Homo sapiens: one gene and its partners. The gene in region 1 interacts genetically with each later gene. Each region holds a gene or a part of one and is shown on either strand. Other genes may lie near its edges. The genes, in order: NEMF, PSMD1 and PAFAH1B1.

The links.
Region 2: changes in NEMF (region 1) and PSMD1 together harm fitness less than expected from each alone (positive genetic interaction), as found in Homo sapiens cells (one large-scale study listed by BioGRID).
Region 3: changes in NEMF (region 1) and PAFAH1B1 together harm fitness more than expected from each alone (negative genetic interaction), as found in Homo sapiens cells (one large-scale study listed by BioGRID).

Annotation. Positions count from the first base shown.
Region 1 is NC_000014.9:49,781,583-49,784,185, reverse strand, and holds the end of NEMF (ribosome quality control complex subunit NEMF), read left to right. Parts: 3' UTR 1-1,232; coding exon of another isoform or gene 1,233-1,356; 3' UTR 1,357-1,591; coding exon of another isoform or gene 1,592-1,644; 3' UTR 1,645-1,728; coding exon of another isoform or gene 1,729-1,816; 3' UTR 1,817-2,103; downstream 2,104-2,603. Other genes in the region: KLHDC2 (kelch domain-containing protein 2), read right to left, coding at 1,233-1,356, 1,592-1,644, 1,729-1,816. UniProt on the Homo sapiens protein: Key component of the ribosome quality control complex (RQC), a ribosome-associated complex that mediates the extraction of incompletely synthesized nascent chains from stalled ribosomes as well as their ubiquitin-mediated proteasomal degradation.
Region 2 is NC_000002.12:231,063,208-231,067,027, reverse strand, and holds part of PSMD1 (26S proteasome non-ATPase regulatory subunit 1), read right to left. Parts: intron 123-3,820; coding exon 1-122. UniProt on the Homo sapiens protein: Component of the 26S proteasome, a multiprotein complex involved in the ATP-dependent degradation of ubiquitinated proteins.
Region 3 is NC_000017.11:2,670,154-2,673,808, reverse strand, and holds part of PAFAH1B1 (platelet-activating factor acetylhydrolase IB subunit beta), read right to left. Parts: intron 3,647-3,655; coding exon 3,478-3,646; intron 1,155-3,477; coding exon 1,052-1,154; intron 1-1,051. UniProt on the Homo sapiens protein: Regulatory subunit (beta subunit) of the cytosolic type I platelet-activating factor (PAF) acetylhydrolase (PAF-AH (I)), an enzyme that catalyzes the hydrolyze of the acetyl group at the sn-2 position of PAF and its analogs and participates in PAF inactivation.

The DNA of each region.
Region 1 (2,603 bases):
TCCCAGTTTTATATAGAGGAAACACTATGATAGGATTTCCTAAAGTATTTGTGGACAGTTAAATGCTAATTATATACATCTGTAGTTATTCTACATTTTCTTGAAATTTGGGAGGTTAATACCAAGTATTCATTTCATGATGTAAAGAAACTGAACAGTGAAGTGGCTTGATTGCTTAAACTATTGACTTGGTAAGTCTACTGTATATAACATCTAATATATATATATTATAGGCCAGCTACAAGGGGTTTAAATATTTAGGATTGTGTCTTGAAAACTAAGTATTGGAGTGGATTTTCTTCTGCTTTCATTGATACTTGTCAGAAAAAAATATTAGACCAAAATGTAAAATATAAGTAATAATTCTCATGACTCAGCTTAATCATTTCTATTCATTTGTAGACCTTCAGGTTTGATCTTAATTTTTTCCTTGTAATCTGATTCAGTTCTGTACCATTTTAATTTCCACCTTTAGTAATTAATTACCAATATAGCACGTTAGAGTATCTTAACCTATAATACCAGAAGCGCATTTTAGGCTTACCACTAAAGACTCTAACCCACTTTTCCTCTGTCTCTTAACAGAATGGAAAATGATGTCATCATTATTTCCATTCCTTCATGAGCTATAAAACCTATTAATTAAAAAAAAACTTTTTAATTGACTGGACAGCACCTGCCTGTATTCAGCATGACCACTTGCTCCAGCCCCTACACTGAAGCATTAAGGTCAAAGTACTGAACAGTTGTTGGTCCCTCCACACTTTGTTTTTCCAGCTTCGTCATAATGTGAATATTAATGTTTAAAAAAAAAAACCTTTATTATATTGTATTTACAACACTAGGTTACATAACTATAGACTACTCTTGCCATTAAAAAAAAAAAAATCTATAATGTTTTCAAAAAATGACTTCAGCATTTTGATGATGGTAAGACTATAATGTTTCTACAGATACATATCCTGAAGTTACTGAAAAGAAAATGTAGCAACCATTCTTCAGGGTAAAAAGCCCAACCATTACTTTACTTTAATAGAGGACAGCTACTGGTGTTAAATACATTTATTGTAAACTTTAGACACAAAAATAGGTTCTCTAGGCCATTCACATGCACATTAAAACCAACAGGTGCAAACTACAACAATGCATATAATTATACAAATGATGCCACTCTGTGATGTTTACAGGATTGCTGTCCATGCAAGGTGATCATAGGCATTATTTATGAAGCCTTAAGATCCAGAAGTGTTGTTACTACCAAACCTCTGATTAACACTGTGAAGTAAGTGTTTTGGAAGGCAGTTCCATGAGTTGGCTAACATTTCTTTAAAGCAAATGACTGCTTCTAAGCTTAGCCTGAAAGTGGACAAGGAAAGAGAAAAGTAATTTCACTTTACTGTTTGGAAGTACATTCACTTGAAAAACTACATAAAACATCCCTCTTTCTTTCTTCAAAGATTTTCATAGGAACTGGTTATAGCAATGAAGTTTTATTGCCCTTAAATAATCCATAAACCTAGTTTTTCGAGAGTGCTAAGTCTTAGGAAACACAATTTTAAATAATCTAAGTGCCAAGTACAAAGTTACTTACCGTACAAGAGATTTTGGTTGAACTGAAAATATTAGTATTTCATTACTGTGTGCCTGAAAAATAAATAGGAAGAACACATTTAAAAGCAAATGCTTTGCAAGTAAGTTTCAGTAATAATGTGAAGGTAGTATACTTACAGCTCTGTGATGGACAAGCAAGTTGTTGGCACATCCACCAAAAACAATTACTTCTCCTTCATCGCTGGCACAAGCTGTGTGCCATAACCTGCATTTAAAACAAAAACGAGTTTGAAGCCACCCAGAACACCAGTTGGCCATTTTATACTACAGAATAGAGCTATGAAATAAAGACTAGCGATCTTAAGGTAGTTCAGACCAAAACATCATGGCGAGAAGTAAAATCTTAAGGGAAAGTAGCAAAAGCAGATCAATCAATATCTATTTTATCTGGATATTATTTTCTCTCTCTGGTCGTTCTCATTTATGCAATGAGGAGTTTGAACTGAACGATCTGTTCTCTAGGTCTTTGTTAGCAATAAAAATCGTATGGGAGCTGAGTAGTATATGCCTTCTTCTTCCATAGGTAGGGCCAACTGGCCTTACACAGAACGTCTGAGGGATGGTGAAAGCCCTGCTTGAGTAAACTATAAAGTCTCAGAAAGCCTGGTAGTTTTATGGAGAGATCATTTGTGCAAATGAAGTCTTACTTGCATGACTATACTTGGTTTAGATACTTGGGGAAAAAATGCAGGCTTTGAACATGAATTTTGACTGTATCATTTCCTTTAGCATTTTGTTCTGAGATTAACAAGAGAAAATTATCAGTGTTTAATAAGCTTTTTTTGGATGATTTGATTTCTTCATCTTTGTTATACAGTGCTACTGCAAGTCTAATTGACAGTTCTTGTTTTTTCCCCATGTATTTTTTTTTTTTTTAAGAGACAGAGTCTTGCTCTATCACCCAGGCTGGAGTGCAGTGGTGCAATCTCAGCTCACTACATCCTCTGCCTCCTGAATAGCTGGGACTACAGGCATATGCTACCACACCTAGC
Region 2 (3,820 bases), on another chromosome or scaffold:
TAGACATCGCTGGAACATTTTATTTACGATGCCTTCCAATCTCTGGTCAATTGGTTTTTTTTCTCCTTCAGGCAAATCTGCATTTTCCACACATTGTTTGGTGTAGTGATCAATGCATTTTGCTGTTGAGGAAATAAAATAACTGATTATCTTGTAAATTGGGCTAAACTATCAGAAAGGGCAATGCCTATATTTATAATCATATATACTTATGGGATGACTATAAAGCAATAAGCAAATTTTGAAATGCTAGAACTTATGCATTTGAATACTGTTCTCCCATAATATTTACACCGGAGAACTACACATTAATTCCAATCCAGTTGACATTATTCAAAACATTTCTATCTGCCAGGTGTGGTAGTGCTCACCCACAGTCCCAGCTACTCGGCAGGCTGAGGCAGGAGGATCACATGAGCCCAGGAGTTCAACGCCAGCCTGAGCACCACAATGGGACCCTGTCTCTTATTTAATTTATTTTTAAAGTTTCTATCTTGTTACTCCATTTTGATCAAAATTTTATTACTCTACCCGATTAAGCTGCTTATTCAAAAGAACTGGCTACAAATAGCTGCTGCTTCACTTTCAAAAAACAAACATTTGCCATTACTGAAGATATTTTAAAAGGCCTATTATAGCAATTATCACATAGTAGTATATCGGACTTCTTTGCATTAATGAAACTATTAGCAACCTGAGAGTAAGAACTATGTCTAAATTGTCTCTGTAGGGTAATGGGGAAATGACTTGAAATGTGCCACAAGTTTAAAAGGCAGTTCCAAAGATTTCCAAAAACTTTTCCAGCAACTGTAGCAGATCCTTTGAAAAACAGTCCTGTGTCGCTTAATGACAGTAATACATTCTGGAAAACACATCTTTAGGTGATTTCATCATTGTGCAAACATCATGGAGTGAACTTACACAAACCTAGATGTTATATAACCTACTACATACCTAGGCTCTATGGTATGGCCTAGTGCTTCTAGGCTGCAAACCTGTATAGCATATTAGTGTATTGAATACTATAGGCAATAGCATTTGTGTCTAAACACAGAAAAGGTACAGTAAAAATATGGTATTGTACTCTTATGGGACATCTGTTGTCTATGCAGTCTGTCATTATGTGATTCCTGACTCTATTTATTGTCTCAATGTGAGGTAGGTGGAACCTATTTCTCCCAAGAAGGTGTCTGAAAATTCATGCAAAAGTGTTTGTGCCCAATTTAGCTTCCATATTTCACAATGATTTGGGTGCATGGAGGGGAGGGTGTGACATACTGAAGGATATCAATAGCACACCTGATAAGAAACATTTGTTTGCAATTTAGTTATATCTTTGCAATCACACCTTAAACTTTCTAAGTACAACCAAAAGAAGGACATTTCCCTAAGCCTTCCACCTTCATAAGGAAGATAAAACAGTCACCCTGGCCGGGCGCGGTGGCCCACGCCTGTAATCCCAGCACTTTGGGAGGCCGAGGCGGGTGGATCACGAGGTCAGGAGATCGAGATCATCCTGGCTAACACGGTGAAACCCCGTCTCTACTAAAAATACAAAAAAAAAAAAATTAGCCGGGTGTGGTGGCGGGCGCCTGTAGTCCCAGCTACTCGGGAGGCTGAGGCAGGAGAATGGCGTGAACCCGGGAGGTGGAGGTTCCAGTGAGCCGAGATCGCGCCACTGCACTCCAGCCTGGGAGACAGAGCGAGACTGTCTCAAAACAAAAAACAAAAAAACAAAAAAACAAAAAAAACAAAAAAACAAAAAACCCAGTCACCCAAGAGGAATGACATATACATTAATTATCCTCTCCATAATTCATTGGCTTGTTTCTTTCCCTTTCAAAGATAAGTAAGAAGACGAGGGCAAGATTTATTAGTTACAAACCATAGCCCCAAGAAATAAAAATAATTTTAACTAGCATAAATGATTGTTGGCCTACTAGATGACCCGGGTTAAATGGGTCTATATCTTGAAGGAAGCAGAGGACTTTTATAAATTGGAATATACTACATTCAAGATTCAGCTGGAACCATGAAGGTTCAGGTACAGTTAATAAGAACATAGTGGGTTGGGTCAGTGGCTCACATCTGTAATCCCAAAATCTTGGGAAGCCGAGGCAAGTGGATCACTTGAGGCCAGGAGTTTAAGACCAGCCTGGCCAACATGGCAAAACCCCATTTCTACAACACAAAAATTAGCCAGGTGTGGTAGTGTGCACCTGTCATCCCAGCTACTTGGGAGGCTGAGGCACGAGAATCACTTGAACCAGGGAGGTGGAGGTTGCAGCGAGCCAAGATCGTGCCATTGCACTCCAGCCCGGGCAACAGAGAAAAACTGCCAAAAAACAAACAGACAAACAAAAAAACACAGTGGATGTTATAATGCAAAATAGACCTTAAAGAATTCCAGTTGTTGAAAATGTCCACCAGGCCCTAATGTGAGCTTTTTGAACCAACTGTAGCTAAGTGAGGAAACATTACCCCTACCCCATCAGAGAGGAACCTCAAAATTAGAACATTTGGGGAATTTTCCTTAGATTATATAACTGAAGGGGAAAAATGTATGTCCCAGGTTTCAAATGAGATTCATGTTCTCATTCACCAGGTTTGCATATATGTCATAAATATATCCCAGGTTTATGTTATAACTAAAACTCAGCCTCATTTCCTGCTAAAGCCTTGTCATAACTTGGAGATTTATGAGTCCTGGATTTTCTGGAGGTACTGTTTACGATATTCATTAAGACGCTAGGAAGCCTTACCCAAATTCTGTTTTGTATACCCCCTCATGAATCTCACTGACATCTTAAAAAATGTGCCCTACAAAACTAGAGGAAGGGTGAACCCCACTTTTAAATAAATAAATGCAAACAGAACTGGTCTACTGATCAAAACTCACCTTCCAAAGGTAAAATGATACAGTGTTTAGAAGGCATCTACCATGCCATAGCACTTCATACCAACAGTCCAGTTTAAAAGCACAATTTGTACAATGGTGGCATTTTAAGCATTTGTAGATCACTGTTGTAAAAAACCATAAACCTTCATTAAAGAAAAAAAAAAGGCTGGCTGTGGTGGCTCACGCCTGTTAATTCCAACACTTTGGGAGGCCAAAGCAGGAGAACTGCTTGAGGCCAGGAGTTTGAGACCACCCTGGTCAACACAGTGAGATCCTGCCCTGTTTTCAAAAAAAAAAAAATCCATCAAATAAAAGAGATAAGTAAGGTATTTCACCCCCTGCTTCTAGCTTAAAGTGAAGAAAGTAGTCTAGTTTCAAATAATACGGTCCATCCTTTTAAGCCATCAGTTCTTCCCACTGGATTCACAGATGACAGCTCAATTCAATGAGCCTCCAACAGCAATAAAGTAACTTGCAAAATTTTCACATCATCATAGCAAAAACTTTAAAAACATGAACACAGAATCCCAAGGACAGTTGATGGTACCTCTATCAACCCCCTTGTGCAGGACTTCCCAATTTCTAAAAGAGAATACCAACTTCCTCCTTGTAAGTGTTCAAGTGAATAATACAGACCTTCTACTAATCAGCAATGTGAAATATCTGCACTGCACACTCCTGACAGAACATGCCCTTGAGCTCTCTGTACTATGAATCCAAAGTCTGATAAACACATGTCTGAAGGGTATGCAGTCCCTTCTTTCATTTACTACATCAACAGTTTTCAAGCATTTTTTTACACTATAAAATCTTTGTATCAAATCTTACATAACTAGTTGAATTTACAACTCTGGTTGAAATATGTGTCAGAAAATTCAAAGCCTTGCCTGTGTGTTATCCCCTTCCTTCAAAAATAAGGAA
Region 3 (3,655 bases), on another chromosome or scaffold:
CACACTTAAAAGTATTTCCAGCCATATTGGAAAAAAGCTATGCTCTACTAATCTGAGTAAAACTAGTAACTTTGTACTACAAAAATCAAGTGTAATTCTATGCACAACCAAATTCAGCCTAACAGAGGTATACCAGCACAAAGATTATTTACTTTTTGTTTTTTTTTTTTGAGACGGAGTCTCGCTCTGTCGCCCAGGCTGGAGTGCAGTGGCGCGATCTCGGCTCACTGCAGGCTCCACCTCCCAGGTTCACGCCATTCTCCTGCCTCAGCCTCCCGAGTAGCTGGGACTACAGGCGCCCGCCACCACGCCCGGCTAATTTTTTGTATTTTTAGTAGAGACGGGGTTTCATCGTGTTAGCCAGGACGGTCTCGATCTCCTGACCTCATGATCCGCCCGCCTCTGCCTCCCAAAGTGCTGGGATTACAGGCGTGAGCCACCGCGCCCGGCCAAAGATTATTTACACTTTAATTTAAACCCACAGAGAGATCACCTAAAAGAAGACCACAGAGGAAATAAGCCATTACACAGAAATGCTTCTCAAGGACATAGAGTCTCTCCTTACAATGTCTCTGTGCTCCTTTTTGGGAGACATGTACAGATCAAACTTAGTTTTAAAGTATATTTAATATGACTGTCATAATGATCATTCCGGGTTAAAGTCGAAGTGACTGCAACACCAGAACACAATTTTGTTTTTTATAAATATGTCTTTAAGCTGATGCCTTTTCTTTTTTTTTGAGACGGAGTCTCACTCTTGTTGCCCAGGCTAGAGTGCAATGGCACGATCTCGGCTCACTGCAACCTCCACCTCCCAGGTTCAAGTGATTCTCCTGTCTCAGCCTCCCAAGTAGCTGGGAATACAGGTGTGCGCCACCACACCCGGCTAATTTTTGTATTTTTAGTAGAGATGGGGTTTCATCATGTTGGCCAGGCTGGTCTTCAATTCCTGACCAGGTGATCTGCCCACCTTGGCCTCCCAAAGCGCTGGGATGACAGGTGTGAGCCACTGCACCTGGCCGCTGATGCCTTTTCAACTAAACTTACTTACCCAGTTTGCACTTCCCACATTTTTATAGTTTTATCCCTTGAGGCAGACACTATATGATCTCCATTGGGCATGATGGCTACTGAAGAAACATTGTGGTCATGGCCTAAAACACATAACAGCAATATATTATGAAGTAATATACCACCAAGAGCAATGAAACATCAATTGACCATGGGATTTTACCATGGGGTTTCACTATGTCAAAGCAAGTTCTAAATACACTGGATTTTATACAAATTGGATAAGAAACCTGGATTTACACGATAAAGTTAAAAAAATCAGTAAAACAACAACCCACAAGGAAATAGTCAACTCCATTTAGGATTAAATTTCAACCTGTACAAATGGTTTAAAAACAAAAGGCATCACGATTATCAACATTTGAATATATTCATATACTTACCTCAGTGAGTCTGAATGTTTACATATGAACGCTAGGGAAACATTTTTTTTTTTTTTTTTTTTTTTTTTTGTGAGGCAAGGACTTGCTCTGTTACCCAGGCTAAAGTGCAGTGGTGCAATCATAGCTCACTGTAGCCTTGAACTCCTGGGCTCAAGAGCTCTTCCCGCCTCAGCCTGTCGGGTAGCTGGAACTACACAGGTGTGTACCACCACATCTGGTACCACCACACCCACAACTATTTTATTTTTTGTAGAGACAAGGTCTCCATATTTTGCTCACACTGGTCTCGAACTCCTGTCCTCAAGCAATCCTTCCTGCCTTGGCCTCCAAAAGTGCTGAGATTATAGGTGTGAGCCACTGTGCCTAGCTTCTAGGTTGATATTCTAAGATATAAAAAAGATAAAGCAAATGGATACAAAAAATGGGGAATTGGTTCTCTGTTTAAAATGGTGGGCCAGGCGCAGTGGTTCATGCCTGTAATCCCAGCACTTTGGGAGGCCGAGGCGGGCGGATCACCTGAGGTCAGGAGTTCAAGACCAGCCTGGCCAATATGGTTAAACCCTGTTTCTACTAAAAATAAAAAAGTTAGCCGGGTGTGGTGGTGCTTGCCTGTATTGCCAGCTACTTTGGAGGCTGAGGTGGGAGAATCATTTGAACCTGGGAGGTGGAGGTTGCAGTGAGCAAAGATTGTGCCACTGTACTCCAGCTTGGGTGACAAAGCAAGAGGCCATCTCCAGAAAAAAAAAAAAAAAAAAAAAGGTGGTGTTGGGGGTAAAAAAAAAAAATGCATTAGAAAGAACTCTTTTTAAAGTTACAGCTAGAAGATACAGGCAACTTAAAGAAAAATAAATGATAGACCTTACGTGGCTCACGCCTATAATTCCAGCACTTTGGGAGGCTGAGGCAGATCAGGAGGTCAGGAGTTCGAGACCAGCTTGACCAACATGGTGAAACCCCGTCTCTACTAAAAATACAAAAATTAGACGGGCGTGGTGGCGCGTGCCTATAATCCTAGATACTCAGGAGGCTGAGGCAGGAGAATCACTTAAACCTGGGAGGCGGAGGTTGCAGTGAGCCAAGATTGTGCCACTGCACTCCAGCCTGGGCGACAGAGTGAGACACAGTCTCAAAAAAAAAACAACCAAAAAACAACAACAAAAAAACAGTGTTCATGCGTGGAATTCCTGTAATTATAAACTTCCCCAATGCATTTAATTTGGGACAGAGAAAACACAACCTTCAAATTATGCCCTCTAGGTAAACACAGTTTACTCATGTGTTAACGTGTTCCTTGTACAAAATCCCAACATTCAAATGTCATCATGTATAAAGAAACAACAAAAATCCCTAAGTAATGAGCATCTCCTATGTGGCAGGTACTACACCAAGATGATTTATCTTATGACTTCATCTTATCCTCATGACAACTCTATGACTCTGGTATTATTACCTCTGTTTTGCAGATGAAAGAGGTTTAAATTTTCTAATACCGTAAGTAGACAAGTAGGAATTTGAACCCAGGTGTCTGACTCCAAAGCAAATTACTCTCTTTCCACAAAACATACTGCCTCAGAAAACAGTTCCCACAACAAGACCCGGGAAATAATGAACGAGGGCATGGGGTCTGTGCGCTCAGCTCATTTCACTTAAGTGAGCAAGAGAATCTGGGCTCGTTTTCACTCGACCTACTCTCTCTGGACTTCAGTTTCCCAACTAACAAAAATTAAAACACAAACAAAACCATTTTTAACTCAAATACAGATAAATGACCTGGCAGTTTTTCTTACCAAGAAATACTCATACAAATATTTTATGTAAAGTACTAAAAGATACTTAAAACTTCCTAATAGAAAGCACTCTCAACTACTGTGGCTTATCCCTGGACTATCTACATGGTATGCTCTTCCACCAATACTGACAATTAAGAGGTGAATAAAGGAACACTGTACACTGTTAGAAACAATATTCCTTCTGAAGTACCATGATAGAAATTACTGTTAAAGCACTATCCTCTACCCCTTACCGTGCATGGTTCTGATGCATTCAAAGCCCTGAAAATCCCATAGTTTAATGGTCATATCTGCAGAACAGGAAGCCAGAAGCTTGCCGCTGTGGTCGAATGAAATGTCCTGTACAGAGTCTGTATGTCCTTTAAGAGTTCGTTCAAAATCTCCAGTCTCATAATCCCACACCTGTCAAGT